Linked DNA regions of Homo sapiens: regions 1 and 2 are each linked to region 3. Evidence: fine-mapped expression QTL. A gene starts in region 3. Each other region holds a variant in brackets. All regions are shown on one strand. Distances are from middle to middle. Region 1 has its middle 8.1 kb from the start of MIR548AP. Region 2 overlaps AKAP13 (A-kinase anchoring protein 13). Region 3 holds the start of LINC02883 (long intergenic non-protein coding RNA 2883).

Region 1 (5,476 bases), 75 kb before region 3:
CATTGTTGTGATCTCGGCTCACAGCAACCTCCGCCTCCAGGTTCAAGCAATTCTCCTGCCTCAGCCTCCTGAGTAGCTGGGATTACAGACACGTGCCACCACGCCTGGCTAAGTTTTTTAGTTTTTTTGTAGAAACACGGTTTCACCATGTTAGCCAGGCTGGTCTTGAACTCCTGACCTCAGGTAATCTGCCCGCCTTGGCCTCCCAAAGTGCTGGGATCACAGGCGTGAGCCACCGTGCCCAGCCAATATAGTTATTAGTTATTTCTTTTCTTTCTTTTTTTTTTTTGAGACAGAGTCTCACTCTGCTGCCCAGGCTGGAGTGCAGTGGCGTGATCTCAGCTGACTGCAACCTCTGCCTCCCGGGTTCAAGCAGTTCTTGTGCCTCTGCCTCAGCCTCCCGAGTAGCTGGGACTACAGGTGTGCACCACCACGCCCGGCTAATTTTTGTAATTTCAGTAAAGACAGAGTGTCACCATATTGGCCAGGCTGGTCTCGAACTCCTGACCTAGTGATCAGCCCACCTCTGCCTCCCAAAGTGCTGGGATTACAGATGTGAGCCACTGCATCCAGTGCAATATAGTTATTTCTTAAATTTATTTTTATAGTTATTCTTATGTCCCCATTTTACATTTCTCTTTTTATATATGGCTTTAATGAGCATAATACATTAATGTTTATAATTTATGAAAAAGTATCATCCTTGTAATTTCTACTTTGTGCATGGTTTTAAGGTACACCCTATATAAATCCAGTGCTAACTGTATAAACTATATGACTAAACAGATTTGCATGTAGTAGGGATGCATGATTTTTTTTTTTTTTTTTTTTTTAGAGAGAGTCTGGCTCTGTCACCCAGGCTGGAATGCAATGATGCGATCTCGACTAACTGCAACCTCCACCTCCAGGCTCAAGCGATTCTCCTGCCTCAGCCTCCTAAGTAGCTGAGATTACAGGCATGCGCCACCACACCTGACTAATTTTTGTATTTTTAATAGAGATGGGGTTTCACCATGTTGACCAGGCTGGTCTCCAACCCCTGACCTCAGGTGATTTCCCTTCCTCGGCCTCCCAAAATGCTGGGATTACAGGCATGAGCCACCACACCCGGCCTGGACAAGTTTTAAGACCTTCGAGGTGGAAGCTCAAGCTGCCTTTATGAGAGTCTTTTGGAGATTCTAGCAGTGAGTGAGGGCCTTCAAACACTGAACAAGCTACATTGGCCCAGACGTCAGCAGCACATCATTCTTCAGGTGGCCCCTTTTGTGGTGATAATGACAAGAAAACTGTGACTAGTGCACAGGTGGAAACCAGAACCAGAAAGGAAAAAGGGGTGGGCATTGTCTGGGGTTGCAACTGACAGAGTGGGTATGTGTGTGAGGCTCCCTCTGAGATCTCCCATGAATGAGTGAAGACCCTTGAAGGCTAATGTTCTTGTCTAGGGGGATGAGTGGCTCGGAACCTGCAATTTGGGCACAAGGGTAAGTGTGACTTCATTTTGCAATCACCACCAGATGGACAGATGAGATCCAGGGAATGGGGAAGTTTGGGGCTGGGAACTCACATGATGAGGCTGCTCAAGGCATCTGCAGAATAACCCTGAGGCTGTAGGTGTTGGGCTATTCCGAACTCCCTCTCTGGGAGGTTTTCATCCATGAAGGTAGGGCCTGAGAAAGGATACAAATGTGCAGAGCTGAGAGTTTGCAAAGCAAGGTTGAGTTCAGAAAAAATATCCTGGCCGGGCACAGTGGCTCATGCCTGTAATCCAGCACTTTGGGAGGCGAAGGCGGGCGAATCTCTTGAGCTCAGGAGTTCAAGACCACCCTGGGCAACATGGTGAAACCATGCCTCTACTAAAATACAAAAAATTAGCTGGGCATGGTGGTGCACGCCTGTAGTCCCAGCTACTCGGGAGGCTGAGGCATGAGAATCATTTGAGCCCTGCAGGTGGAGGCCGCGGTGAGCCGAGATCATGCCACTGCACTCCAGCCTGGGCAACAGAGAGAGATTCCATCTCAAAAACAAACAAGAAAGAAAGAAAAGAAAAGAAAAAATATCCCAGACAGACTCAATCCAAGTTCCTAGCCGTGTGGCCTTGGAGAAGTCACTCTCTGAGCCTCAGATGTTTCATCTGTAAGACAGAAATATTCTCTCTTCCTCAGGACAAACAAGGGGAGAGGTCTATTTATCCAGCAAAACCCTCCACCCTGCCACAACCCCCACCTCCCCCATAACCTTTCTCCAGGAAATGATATTCAAAAAACAAAGTCTTCCAGCTCCGACAAGGCCCCAGAGCAGAATCACCAGTTCACTGGACAATAACCTCAGTGACGTGATTTTTCCTCCCAGAACATATGGCAAGTGGGCCAGAGCTGGAGAAGTGGGAGCAGCCGCTGCAGAGGCCGGTCTTGAGAATGTCCTCATTTTGCAGCTGACCAACAGCTTCCCCTGGCATGTACAGGCAGGAGCAGCCCCTCTCCTTTCTAGCTGGGAGGAGAATGCCCACAGGCTTAGAGCAGCTATGCCAAAGCCCATCTTGGCCATTGGCAACACCCCACCCACCCACAGGGGTGCCAGAGGACTTCTCCCTGA[G/A]CACCAGGTCCAGGTGCCATGTGGCATTCTCTGGGTAGACACCGGCTCTCCCAGCCTCTCCGCCCACCTGCCCCTTCCCCATGAGGACACTGGCCACCCTCCTTCCCCTTCCTGTTCTGTCTTCCACTCCCTCTGGCTTCATAGACACCGCCAGGGCTTGTTCTCCTCCATCTCGGTCAGGCACTATGCCCTGAGGTTGGCACTAAATGGTGGGGGAGTCAGACCACCTCCAGAGCCCCTGCACGGTGGCCCAGAGTATGTGAACAAGGTGCTTTCCTGGAAGAACATCTCCCTTAAAAAGGTCACTCATACCAAAACTTGGGCATTCTTTTTACATTTTATAGAAAAGAAAAAGGATGACGGGCTTGGTGGCTTATGCCTATAATCCCAGTACATTGGGAAGCCGAGGCGGGCGGATCACTTGAGGTCAGGAGTTCGAGACCAGCCTGGCCAACATGGCAAAACCCCGTCTCTACTAAAAATATAAAAATTAGCCTGATATGGTAGTGCGTGCCTGTAATCTCAGCTACTCAGGAGGCTGAGGCAGGAGAATCACTTGAACATGGGAGGTGGAGGTTGCAGTGAACCAAAATCACATCCCTGGAAATCAAAAAAACAAAAAAAGAAAAGGAAAAGGAGGCACCATTCAATTCAGCGTGAATTTATCAAGCATCTCCTCCATGCCAGGAACTCTCTGGACACTAAGGATGCTGTAAGTGACATTCCCTGACCTCATGGAGCCCAAGGAGATTAAATGACCCCTATAACCTAAGGCAGTTTTTCAAATGTCTTCAAGCCTCCTGATGTGTACAAAAGGTAAAAACCCTGGTACCTCTGGTGGAAGAAGCCAGAGCGATCACTGTTTCTCACCCCAGGACTCCGGGAAGTTCTCAAATCACCATGCGGGGTCTCCTGCAAGATCTTGAAAAGTAATAACAGCTAGTGTGTATTAAACACTTCTTAGGGGCCAGGCACTCTTCTAAAAACATTAGCACCTGAACTCTCAGAACAAACCCATCATGTAGGAACTATGATCCCCATTTTACAGATGGAAAGGAGATCACAGAGAAGGAAGTCACTTGCCACAAGGGCTGACTCCAGGGCCCATGACTTGTGTTCTCACCTGGCCTAGCTGCTGCACAGAGCTCCTCACAAGCCGTGAAGAGCAGCGCCAGGAAGCCCCACCGCATCACCTCCATTCTGATGATGATGGTGGTGATGGTGGTGGCAGTGGTGATGAGGTAACTCTTAGTTCCTTTATTTCCTGCAGAGAATGGCTGGTTCCTCTAAATGGCTTGGTGATTGTTTTGTTTGTTGGGTGTTTTTGAGAAAGGGTCTGACTCTGTCACCCAGGCTGTAGTGCAGTGATGAAATCGCAACTCACTGCAGCCTTGATCTCCCAGGCTCCAGCAATCCTCCCACCTAAGCCTCCCAAGCAGCTAGGACAACAGGTGTGTGCCACCACACCCAGCTAATTTTTCTATTTTTTGTAGAGACACAGTTTCACTATGTTACCCAGGCTGGTGTCGAAATCCTGAGCTCACATAATCCTCCCGCCTCCCAAAGTGCTGGGATTACAGGCGTGAGACACCACGCCCAGCCTAATTTTTCTTAATGTACATTTTCATTTTACCAGTGCTATTGTAAGTGCTTTTTGCTGTAACACATTTCTAATACATTTTAAGCAAATGCGGCATTAATTTTGAAGGAATGATCCTTTCTTGTGAAGACCCTTATTCAGCCATTCCCAGGAGGGAGGAGGGACAAAGAGAGACTGAGAGACAGAGAGTGCAGGCGTTCGCAGACAGGAGACAGAATAAGAGAACATTTGCTAAAGAAATGACCCAGGCACTCAGTAAATGTTAGAAGACACGCGAGGGGCTTTTCCAGCGGTCAGTCCTGGCTGTGAATCTCAGTCCCACCCTGTGCCAGATGACATGTCGGACCAACTACATAAATCCTCCGAGCCTTGGTTACCTTGTCTGCAAAGCAAAAGATCTCATTGGGGTTTTCTCCCACATTAAAGGAAACAACCCCACTTTGCACAAAACCTGGAACAGAATAGGAATGCAGTGTGTGCCTTATTCAACCCCTTCTGGACCCTGAGTACAAGACTGAGAATGTCAGCAGAGGGCGCTGGCTGGTCTGGGTCCCTCAATCTGGGAAGCGTGCAGTGTGGATTCAGCGTGGATCCTCTGTCTTGTGGGTGGAGGGCTGAGGACTTTAAACCATGGTCAGATTCCCCCGCCTGTGGGCACTGTGCTGGGGACGGAAAACAGAGCTCTCTGAAGGTGCAATTACACGTCATTTGCATATCTTATAGAGAACAGATGCTCCTTTCCATCGGGAAACATTCCCATATGGTCTGGCCTTGTCGCAATTTCCAACAAGGGCTGGTTTTAAGTTTTGCAATTAAAGGTGTCCCTTGGCCACAGCCAGAAAACAAACTGAGTTTTCATTGAGCCCTGGAGGTGCCTTTGTTTTGCCTCTGACAAGAAGGAAGCCAGCCCTCTGGGCCCCAGGGCCCTGCCAGCTCTCCCTGAGGTCCCCAATTGAGGGAAGGGTTGGGGCCTTCCCTTTAAGGGTGGCTGGCAGTCCCAAAAAAAAGGCTGCGCTAGGGGGATTGGGAAGGGAATGGGAGGGAGATGAGATTAGAGGACAGGGCTAGGGCTGTCAGAATGAACTTCAGGAGACTTTTCCTCCAGCATCTCACATCCTCACTTTTCTCTACCCTAACCCTCTAGACCCCCATCTTCCATCTTTCCTCCTCTCTACCCTCAGGACACATACAGCCCCCAGGTCATAAACCCTCTTCAGATGAAACACACAGGTGGCATCATCGCTCTGCCAGCTGGCCAGGTCCTCCCTTGTGCGGCATCCTCAG
Region 2 (5,476 bases), 57 kb after region 3:
CTTTAACAGAGACCCTGTCTCTCAAAAAAAAATTATTAAATATATGTGTGTGTATATATATATATATATATTTTTTTTTTTTGAGATGGAGTCTTGCTCTGTCACCCAAGCTGGAGTGCAGTGGTACGATCTTGGCTCACTGCAACCTCTGCCTCCTGGGTTCAGGTGATTCTGCTGTCTCAGCCTCCTGAGTAGCTGGGATTACCGGTCCATGCCACTACGCCTGACTAATTTTTTGTATTTTTAGTGGAGATGGTATTTCGCCATGTTGGCCAGGCTGGTCTCAAACTCCTAACCTCAGGTGATCCACCCGCCTCAGCCTTCCAAAGTGCTGGGATCACAGGCGTGAGCCACGGCACCTGGCCAATAAATAAAATCTTTGGGGGATTTGAGACATCGCCCTATCTGGACTAAGAGTGCTTATATGCAAAAGGCATGTGAGATGTTCTTGGTAGCTGGTGTAATAACCACAGTGCTGATGTACAGAACAAGAAGAAAGCCACAAAAAAGAGCCAAATCATCTCAGCTGAAGTAGCCCCAGCAGCAGTTTTCGTAACAACACTGGTAAACAAAAATGAAATAAAATGAAAGTATTCTGCTTAAAAAAGAATTGCCTTTATTGCTTAGGGTCTTTTTTTACCTTCCTTTTCCCTAAGTAATAAACTTCCTTCCTTTAATCAACTATATGTATTTTATTCTCTCATATAAGCAATGAACTATAAATGCCAGAAAACTGTCTAGAGGGCAACTTTTCTGATGAAATCAGAAGTAAAATCTAACCATCACACACATTCTAAATTCTTATGTTTCCTACTTAGATTGCAGCTGGTTTACTTGTTTATTTTTTATGTAAAAGAAACAACCTACCACAAAAGTACTGAAATGCTGCTAGCACAACAGAAAATAAATCAGCAATAATCTCAGTATCATTTTACATCTGTTTAAAGCAAGCAAAACAGAACCACTGGCAAGACCCCAAAACCTGAACATAACAAATTCCTTATTCTGAAAGACCCCACTAAGTCACTAAGCTTTTCAAAGAACAAATTATTTGTGGCAGCTGGAAAGAACAGCTGACTATTCAAGGACAGCTTTACATAATAGAGAAATAAGAGTTGAAAAGACATTCCTCTATTAACCCTGTTAAAGTCACCTAATCCTAAAGCAAGAGTAGCGTTTTGGCTGAGATAAAAAGTCCCAGTTTCTTGTATAAACCATCATAACATATCATCATGATGGACTATATGGCTGATCTTTCTAACCACAAGTCAAAGGTGACTATGCAGTGCTGAGGGTATGAAGCTCTATCCAGGGGTCAGCCAAACAGGGTTACACTTAACCACAATGGGAAGCCACTGTCTCCTAAGAGCACAAAGGTTTCCTAGGAGGTAAACGACTAACTGCATGGATGCTACATTTCCTACGACTCCTGGGAAGATCCTGGACATGAGACGCGATGGAGGGAAGTGACGAAAGATTCTGCGTCCCCAAATTACTCATATTTTCTACTTCCTGCCAAGATAACACATGGGACTTCCTACATACAAACATTCAGCTTCTTCAGGAAGCTGAAGATAATCAGCCCATTACTTTGGTTCCTTTGAGAAGATGACTACATACTATTTTGTTGCTTTCAATCCTTTTCACTCCTTTTGTGTGTGTGTGTGTGTGTGTGTGTGTGTGTGAGTCTTGCTCTGTCACCCAGGCTGAAGTGCAATGGCGCGATCTTTGGCTGACTGTAACCTCCGCCTCCCGGGTTCGAGCAGTTCTCCTGCCTCAGCCTCCCAAGTAGCTGGGGATTACAAGCGCCCACCATCATGCCCAGCTAATTTTTTGTATTTTTAGTAGAGACGGGGTTTCACCATGTTGGTCAGGCTGGTCTTGAACGCCTGATCTCGTGATCCACCTGCCTTGCCCTCCTAAAGTGCTGGGATTACAGGCGTGAGCCACCGTGCCTGGCCTACCCCCTTCTTTTTATAAGAGGCAGGCTGCAGACTGTCTTACATAAACCTTAATGCTATCACCAGATGTTGAGACTATTTCTACATTACTTCTGGAGTAGGGTGGTATGCAAATTAAAGAATGTATTTTTGAAACTTAGTGCATATTAGGGTAACAGTCAAGCCCAACTTAAACTATTCCTTTTTGCTGTCTGATACTTTTCAGTTTAAACCTCAAATATAGCCAGGCATGGTGGCTCACGCCTGTAATCCCAACACTTTGGGAGCCTGAGGAGGGTGGATCACCTGAGTCAGGAGTTCAAGACCAGCCTGGCCAATATGGTGAAACCCCAACTCTAATAAAAATACAAAAAAAAATTAGCCAGGTGTGGTGGCGTGTTCCTGTAGTCCCAGCTACTTGGGAGACTGAGGCAGAAGAATCGCTTGAACCTGGGAGGAGGAGGTTGCAGTGAGCCGAGATTGCGCCACTGTACTCCAGCCTAGGTGACAGAGTGAGACGCCGTCTCAAACAAACAAAAAACAAAAAAAACCCCTCAAATATGTTAACTCTTTTTCCTGGTTTTTGCTGAGCAGGTAGAACTAAGATAATCTCTGATATTTGATTAGATCAAGCCATTACCAAAAATCAAAGAACAACTAGCAAAGGTTATTATGACCCCTGTCCCCACCGACAGACTTCCCAAACAGAAAAGACTTTAGTCTAGTGATAACACACTGGACTTCATGAAATAACGTGCCTCCAGAAAAAGCAAATTCCTTGGGTGACTTCATATTAAAAAAAGTCCCATTCCACTTATAAACACTATTAGCACAGAACCAGTAGCCAATCCACTATTTCACTGGTTTTCCAAAATACTAGAAAAACTCTAAAAAGTCTTATATGAAATATTAATATACTGTGTTCAGATATGTAAAACAGTACAGATTTATTTTGAGTTGCAATTTTAATATTTACTTTCAAAGTTAATGAGAACAATGAAGCAGCTGTGATGAACTAAAAACGTGAGGTCAGAGGTGCATGACATTCGCAATTCACTTACCTACCACAACCTCTAATTTCTTTATTTAATTTTGAGTACATGACACAGAGAACATCTTAACGTTCTTCATGTAGATAAATAACCAATATTAGCAGTTTTTTTTTAATGGCTTGCCTTGCAATCACAGTATAATCTTCAATTAATTAGAGATGGAAGGAAAAATACAAATGAATAGGTAGGCTGATAGCTAAAGCTGATATGTTGATGTTAAAATTTGGGAATTATACCTTTAAGAAGGTACGTTTTTATGTAGTTTTAAATATACACAAATTCAGAAATCTGTGGAGCTTCCAAACACCTGACATCCTGAAAGCTAC[C/T]GCCCTATCCATTAAACTAATTACTACACAGAAGTGTGGCTGAGAATCTCAGACCCTCAAACCTTTCCTACAGTTTTCCCCAGTCAATACCAAACCCTACACAAGTGATTCTCCACGGGTACCTCTGGCATCGTTGGGCAATGGAAGTCTCCAAGAGGTAACCCAGATCTTGCTCTCCAGAGGCGGTTCTAGCACATACGACACTGATAGCATAAGGAGTCTAATAACTTGTGGTGTCCTAGCTATGTGTGCTTCATCATCCAGGGAGTCCAGTAAAAGAGAATTTCTATCATGTTTAACAGGAAGACATATCAAGAAAGCAAAAATGGGCTTAGGATGCCTGTGCATTCTCCTACATTAACTGAATATTTCTGCTATCTGATAAATTTATTATATGCCAGTTACAGGTTTAATTCTGAGTGATAGTCTAATGTAGACAAAGACTTAATATAGCCAAAGAGGGCAAATTTCAACTATTTGTAACCTAGAAATAATGTATATACACAAGTCAATGGCAATACAAGGCTAAATATACACTGGCATATATTAGACAACTTCTTTTAGCCTGAACTTAAAATTGCAAAATTATCTGGAGCTAGTCATGGAAAGGTACAGCCACTCATTATAACCATAAGCCAACGGTTCTTAAATCTATTGTCCTCTATAGCACAAGATTCTTTGGGTCTTCAAAAAGACTGTCTATAACTTTCAACCTTAAATCTCCTGATAATGTTTCACATCACAATCCAGAACTGAGAGTTGGTAGATCAACTATACTACTTCTGATTCAAGCTGGTGCTATCAATAACAGTGGTAGAACAACTCTCCTCAAGGCTTATAAGCTTACTCTGTTCTGGTAGTAATTCTGCTTTGTCCATTAAATTCTCAAATCAAATACCAACTTATTTTGTGCCTTCATCAGAGATCAGCTGATAAATAACTAGAAAAACCTTTGAAACTATCAGTGGTCCAATATTTACATTTTGTTTTTAGACATACAAATAATATGTAAGTACATTCTCTAAAAATTCAAACAATCTAAAAGAATAAAATAAAGAGTCCTCTTCAACTCCTTTTCTCCTTATTTCTCTTTCTTCAGATTGTTAACAGTTTGGTGTATAGCCTTTCAGATATTTTTGTAAAAAGAATTTTTTTTTTTTTTGAGATAGAGTTTCACTCTTGTTGCGCACGCTAAAGTGCGGTGGTGTGATCTTGGCTCACTGCAACCTCTGCCTCCTGGGTTCAAGTGATTCTCCTGCCTCAGCCTCCTGAGTAGCTGGGATTACAGGCATGCACCACCACGCCCAGCTAATTTTTTGTTTTTTAGTAGAGATGGGGTTTCACCATGTTGCCCAGCCTGGTCTTGAACTCCTGACCTCAGGTGTTCTGCCCGTCTCAGCCTCCCAAAGTGCAGGGATTACAGCTGTGAGCCACCATCCCTGGCATATTTTTGTAAATTTATATAAACTGTTTGTTTTCCATAAACTAGGATCATGCTGTATATATTGTTCTATTTACTGACTTTCCAACTCATCAAAATGTCTTGGAGAGCTCTGTCTGCACCTGCAAATCTCTCCCAGGGCTTGGCACACTATGGTCCTTGGGCTGAATTAGGCCCACAGCCTGTATTTGTAAATTTTTTTTTTTTTTTTTTTTTTTTTTTGAGACAAGGTCTCGCTCTGTTTCCCAGGCTGGAGTGCAGGGGCTCGATCTCGGCTCACTGCAACCTCTGCCTCCTGGGTTCGAGTGATTCTCCTGCCTCAGCCTCCCAAGTAGCTGGGATTACAGGCGTGCACCACCATGCCCAGCTGATTTCTGTATTTTTAGTAGAGACGGGGTTTCACCATGTTGGCCAGGCTGGTCTCAAACTCCTGACCTCAAGTGATCTACCTGCCTAGGCCTCCCAAAGTGCTGGGATTACAGGCATGAGCCACCGTGCCAGGCCTGTAAATAAATTTTTATTGGAACACAGTCACATCCATCGTCTATGGTTGCTTTTGTGCTACAAGGACAGAGTCCAGTAGTCATGACAAAGACCTGATGGGCTGCAAAGCCTAACATACCATTGGTTCCTTTGCAGAAAAAGTTTGGCAACCTCTGATCTGTCCTATATTCTCTCTCTCCTTTTTTTTTTTTTTTTTGGAGACAGAGTCTTGCT
Region 3 (5,476 bases):
TCACCTGCCACTCAGTGGGGAAAGCAGGCCTGGGGTGCCTGAATCACCAGACTGCGCTGCCGGTGAATGGTGGATCTGGCGTTCTCACGCCCGAGCCTCATGGGCAGCTGTGTCATTGTCATTTTGTTCCAGATCAGGTCAGAACAGAACAATGTGGCCACTGATTGATTTTCTCTTCCTCTCCTCCCTCCACAGACCGCGGCCTTCAGTGTCACAGCGTGGCCTTGCTTGTCTGCCACAGCGGGAGCTAAGCCGGCCCTGGGCCAGCACTCCGAGAGGTGGAAGGGGCCCTGCCAGCTCTGGGGAGCAGCAGCCTTGGGCTGTTCTGAGCTTTAGGCAAGAGAAGAGAAGCATCTCTTGCATCCGTGCCCCTGGGGGCCTCTTCAGCTTTGCAGTGGTTTGTGGGAAGACATACCTCCCAGAGGGGCATGGACTGCCACCAGGACTGACCCTGGCGTCGGGGAGAAGGACACTTGCAGAGCCTTGAGATCACCTGTTTGGCAGGTCCTGGACTGGGGCCGGGCAGGCAGGGGCAGGGAGGCGCCCCGGGTGGGCTTTGGGGCTGCGGCACTGCCACACATCCTTTCCCTCCTGGCCTGCCCTGCTGGGGCTCTACTGCCATCTATAGATGGTGTCCTGGGCCTGGGAAACTAGGTTCCCAGGGGTTGAGACCAGAAAGGTGACCAAGACAGATTTTTTAAGGTGCAGAAACTGCAGGGGGGCCTCAGTGACATCCATGAGGCCTTATTAGCAAAGGACACCCAGACCTCCAAGGTTTGTGGGCCCCTTCCACAAAGCTGTAAGTCCCAGCCCACCTACTCAGGGCCTTGCTCAGTGCTGTGGCCCGGTGGGGACACAGTTGCTCGTGGCCACTCAGTGGAGCTGGGCCTGCAGCAGACTCAAGGCTCCGAGTGCCCTGGGGGTCACCCCTCCCCTCCCCTCCTCAGAGCCCACCCTGAGAGGCAGCAGTGACCCCCATGGCACACACCTGCCAACAGCACTGGGGGCTTCTCCCCAGGAGACCACGCTGCCCTCCAAGACCAGGAGCAGCTGTGAGCTGGAGACAGCAGAGGGACCCCAGGGTGTCCCCTGCAGATCCCACCAGGGCCGCATCCATCTCAGTGTGGAGGACAGTGACGGGACCCTCACCATCCTCTTGCGTTTTGGCCCCCATTTGCTCCCTGAGCTCCAAGATAAGAATGGCCCCGAGAGAACTGCTGAACATTTGTTCATTGCTGTCACCTCCTGAGTCACTGGGGTCCCTCACCAGCACCTCCCTGACACCTGGGCTATGGAGAGGTTGGCGCCTGTCAGTGACCATCCTAATGCCTCTCGCTCACTCCCAAGCCACCATTTGAGAGGGAGGGGTGTTGGTGCCCTGACAGGGACTGGGCAGGGTGTCCAAACTTGGGGCTTCCCAGGCACCTGCAGTGTGAACACTGCTTGGCTGGCTCAAGATTAGGGCCGCGGAGGGGGCTGTGCACATACCAGTTACTTAAGCAGCCACGAGTGTCCCCCATGCCTTGGTGCGGGTCCTGGAGGCCTCTTGGGGGTGGGACCTTTGGGCAGGGTTTGCCCACTGACACGCCCGCCATGGGGCACTGGCTGCATGGGGCTCCTTGGACCCTGTAGACCCAGCAGACCCCGCCTGTGTCAGGCCAGCTGCCCGAAGGCACTTGGCTGTGGTCCCAGGGGACGGCTCTGCTGGCACACTCAGGAGCCTGGCCGCGGGGACTGCAGGGAGGGTGCCTGGACCCGTGGGGTTGCTTCATTGAGATAAAGCACACTTATCACATAGCACAAAGGACGTGCCATGGTGCTTTCCCCAAAAGTTGTGTTGCTTTTATCAGTTTTCTAACTTAATAAAAAGAGTTGAGAAAATTCTTTGCCTGCCTTGTGTGCTGGGATCAGTCTTGGAGACATTGCTGGTGGCTGACTTTGGTCTTGTCCCACCAGCCAAGGCTCAAGGCCTGCCTGCTGGCATCTGCCCCTCTCATGAGCTGGGAAGGGGGAACCCACCCAGATGAGAGGTCTCCCCATTCCTGTGCCTCCTGAAGTTGCTTTAGAAGCCATGAAGTTGATTCCGTGGAGAGTCCTGATCCTGTCTGCCCCTCCTGAGAGTGATTCTCTCCTGGAAACTCTGGTAAATAGAAGTTGGGAATGTAATTCCATCCATTCGAAAAGGCAGAACCTCCAGTTGATGCTCCTTTGTCTGAAAATAACCCGAGCGCCATTCAGAGGGGCGAAATGGCTCCAGGAGGCAGCTTCACGGCCGCAGCGCCAGCTCACGGCACCGTTGCGCCCACTGGTTGCACCGTGGGCCCTGGGCTACCTGCCCTCCTTGTGCGTTTTCATAGTCACCATGAACCTCATGAGCTCAAGCGTATGCTCACGGGTAAACATCGTGTTCTGTGTTTTGTGATCTCACCTTCAGGCGCCCCTCAGACAGCGGGCAGCCCGAGAAGGTCATGCCGTGGCGCAGCCTGCGTGCAGGGTGGCTCTGCTGTGAACAGGAACCCGGAGGTGCCCCAGCACGGTGGCTCTCAGCAGTGGCTTCCGTGGTGCTCAGTGGTGTGCTGGCCCACAAAATCCAAATAGCGCCTTCACAGTGTAAGAAGTGCTTCTGATGCTGGCGTAGGGGCATGACGCCAGATTCCTTAGAAAATGGAATGATCTTGAGCGGGTGTGTCTCAGAGGTGAGTATGGTGCGTGTAGAAGAGCCAAGAGCACAGAGGGCCTCGTCCCTCCCCCTGCCCAGAGGTGCAGCCCTGGGAGGGGCATCCTGGGACTCTGCCTCGCACTGTCTGCTCCTGTAGCAGTGGTGGGGACCACAGGTGAACGCTACCACTTCCACACAGGCCTGAGCGCTTCACTCTGGGCATCCAAAGCCAGGAGTTGGCTCCAGCTAGAGTCCAGACAGCAGCAGAGGTGAAGTTCCCTGTCACACAGTCACAGGGTGAGTGTGAGCCAGCTGTGGCCCACAGGGCTCCAACTCTCTCCCCCTCTCTCCCTCTCTCTCCAACTCCCACCCCCTCTCTCCCTGCCCTGCCGTCTTCCATGCAAGGCAGCGGTTTCCTGGTCCACCCTGGCCTTCGCAGCCCCGGCCATCCCATCTGCATTCCAGCCAGTGGAAAGGGGAGGAGAGAAAGTGATGGGCAAGCCTGTTTTAAGGGCATGTCCCAGAAGTTGCACCATAACTTCTCCATTTTCCCAACAGCTAGAACTCAGTCACATCCACGCCTGACTGCGAGCGGGACTGGAAAGTGCCCCGAGGAAACTCCAGGACTCCAACGCCAAGTAAAGGGAGCGTAGATATTAGACAGGTAGCAGCCTCTTCCTCTACATGCTGGGTCAGGGGTTGGAAGGAACCTGGGCACACCGCCCTGCCTCCCGCTTCTCTGGGAGCATGCAGAGCCGTCATCTGCCAAGATCCTGGCTCTTGTCAAACCCTTCTTGTCAAGCAGTTGTCAAGCCCACTGGCCAGTGCTTTGCATAACTACCTCCTTTAACCCTCACAGTGACCCCCGGAGGTAGACATTCTTGTCCTCTTCTTGCTGATGAAGAAATGGGTCCACAGGTCACAGTAACTTGCCCAATGTCTCATGCTGGAAAGAGGAGGAGGAGGAGGAGGAAAAAACACGGTTGCAACTGACAGAATGTGGATTTGGAGCTAGGCCCACCTGAGTTTGGGTTCAAGCTCTCACGTGTGGCTCTCATGTATGTGCAAGCTTGGTTAAACCACTTGATTCTCTGATACAGACTTAATGATAGTAGGGTTAAAAGTTGAGGTCAAATTCTATAAAGCACTAAACACCAGGACCAATGCCCAGATAGCCCTTTACAGGGGGAGAATGGCCGCCACATTACAGCAGTGGAACTGGGATTTGAAACCAAGCCATATGCTACATTGTGGGGGCTGGGGGCTGGGAGCAGTGTTGCTTCCAGTCATTGCCCAGCAGGCCTAGCTCCATGTTCCTTGGCCTCCCAGGGGTCAGACTGAGTCTGGGATGGGGCTTGGGGAAGGGAGAAGGCGCCTTCCCCATCAGTGATGGGGCAAGGTCTCCCTGGAAACCTCGGTCCCAAGATGGCCAGTGGAGCTTTCCTGGGTTGTGCCTGATGCAGGAAAGAAAACGGGCCATCTTGGAGGCTTTGGCATCCTGAGAGCCTGCCTGGGGGGACTGTCAAGTTGCCAAGGGCAAGGAGAGGGTAGCCAACTGCCTCCTCCACCTGGCTGCTCAGCCAGGTCTCCCTGCCTTCAAAGGACATTTCTTTGGTCAGGAATTGACAAGAATGAGCCCAGAGTCATCCACCCCAAGGGTGTGTGGCAACCATCCCTTGCTCAACACCGAAGGCTGTAGAATCATAGTGGGGAAAGAAGCAACTTCTTCAGAAGCAGTTGTCTAATGAGCACAGCTTGGAAAGAGCCTTGGTTCTTCTGGATCATCACTGGGGGGATATTTCGCAGAGCAAGAAACTTGCATGCCCCGTCCATCATGTCCCAGCCCCGGCCCCAGGCCCAGCCCCGATGGATCTGCCCGGCCTCTCTCCTTCAGGAGGTGGGAATGGTCTCTTCCAACTTGAAGAGGCCATGAAGGTGATCGGCCCCCCAGCTGCTCTTCTTCCCTCAGGCCCAACCCTACCTGACCTGCAGCTTGGCCCGCCCATGGCACCTGCAGAGGTTCAGGCCCTGCCCAGGGAGCCAGGGTGATTTGGGTGAATTTCCCAGAACGGGCACAGTATTGTCCTGCATCTTCCCTTGCCTTGTTGGGCTTTGGGATGTGGCTCTGCCTCATTAAAGGTCAAGGAAAAGCCTAGAATAGGCCGGAGGCTTCTTAACTTGGGATTTGGGATCAAATTCAGGGGGTCCATGCACTTGGGTGGGAGAAGAATGACACCTTTGTTTTCACTAACCTCTGACTGAGGTTAGTGATCAAGTGATCCGCCCACCTCGGCCTCCCAAAGTGCTGGGATTACAGGTGAGAGCCACCTTGCCTAGCCCCAGTCACTGTTGAGGTCACCATTTTAAAGCTGAGGAAACATGCTCAGCATGGCAGCAGAAGCTCTGGCAGTTTCTGTGTGTCTGGCCCCAGCTGCCCAGGCCCCCTGAACCTGAGGGGCCTTGCTCTGGCCCTGGGGTTGGCCTGGGTTTGGCACCTGGCGCTCGGGCCCCTGAGGGCTTGCAGTAGGGGAGCAGTGGCTTTTTTGAGTTGAATTTAGTAGGGCTGGACTCCTTTCCTGTCCTTTCTGCAGGTAAAGGAGATGAGCAGCGTTGCTCTGGTACGCAGAGAAGCTTCCAGACACTCCTGGGTTGCACGATAGATTAAGTAATTCTACTGATGGGCACCAGCTCCATGCCAGGACCCAGGGCTCCAAAGCCATTTCCAGGTAGACTCATCACAGCTTCTCCACTCAGCTTGCAGGGATGGTGGGGAACCAGGGAGGATGGGAGCAAGAGACACATCCTGCCAAGCCCACC

What was found. PIP is the estimated chance that this variant, and not a neighbour inherited with it, causes the effect.
Region 1: its variant is the best candidate, but not a certain one, in a credible set for the expression of LINC02883 in sun-exposed skin (GTEx, PIP 0.78).
Region 2: its variant is the best candidate, but not a certain one, in a credible set for the expression of LINC02883 in whole blood (TOPMed, PIP 0.81).

What each region holds. Positions count from the first base shown.
Region 1 is chr15:85,830,954-85,836,429 of GRCh38, reverse strand. No RefSeq gene overlaps it. Among named protein-coding and RNA genes, the nearest start is that of MIR548AP, 8.1 kb to the right of the region's middle. The variant G/A (reference allele first, on the strand shown) is at 2,593.
Region 2 is chr15:85,698,449-85,703,924 of GRCh38, reverse strand. The region is part of intron 17 of AKAP13 (A-kinase anchoring protein 13); the gene reads right to left. Among named protein-coding and RNA genes, the nearest start is that of LINC02883, 58 kb to the left of the region's middle. The variant C/T (reference allele first, on the strand shown) is at 3,319.
Region 3 is chr15:85,755,731-85,761,206 of GRCh38, reverse strand. It overlaps LINC02883 (long intergenic non-protein coding RNA 2883), which reads left to right and starts at 2,482. Exons shown (of 6, transcript NR_120366.1): 1 at 2,482-2,696; 2 at 2,859-2,956; 3 at 3,218-3,323; 4 at 5,251-5,385. KLHL25 (kelch like family member 25) reads left to right here. Exons shown (of 3, transcript NM_022480.4): 3 at 196-1,881. RefSeq lists an enhancer at 104-605.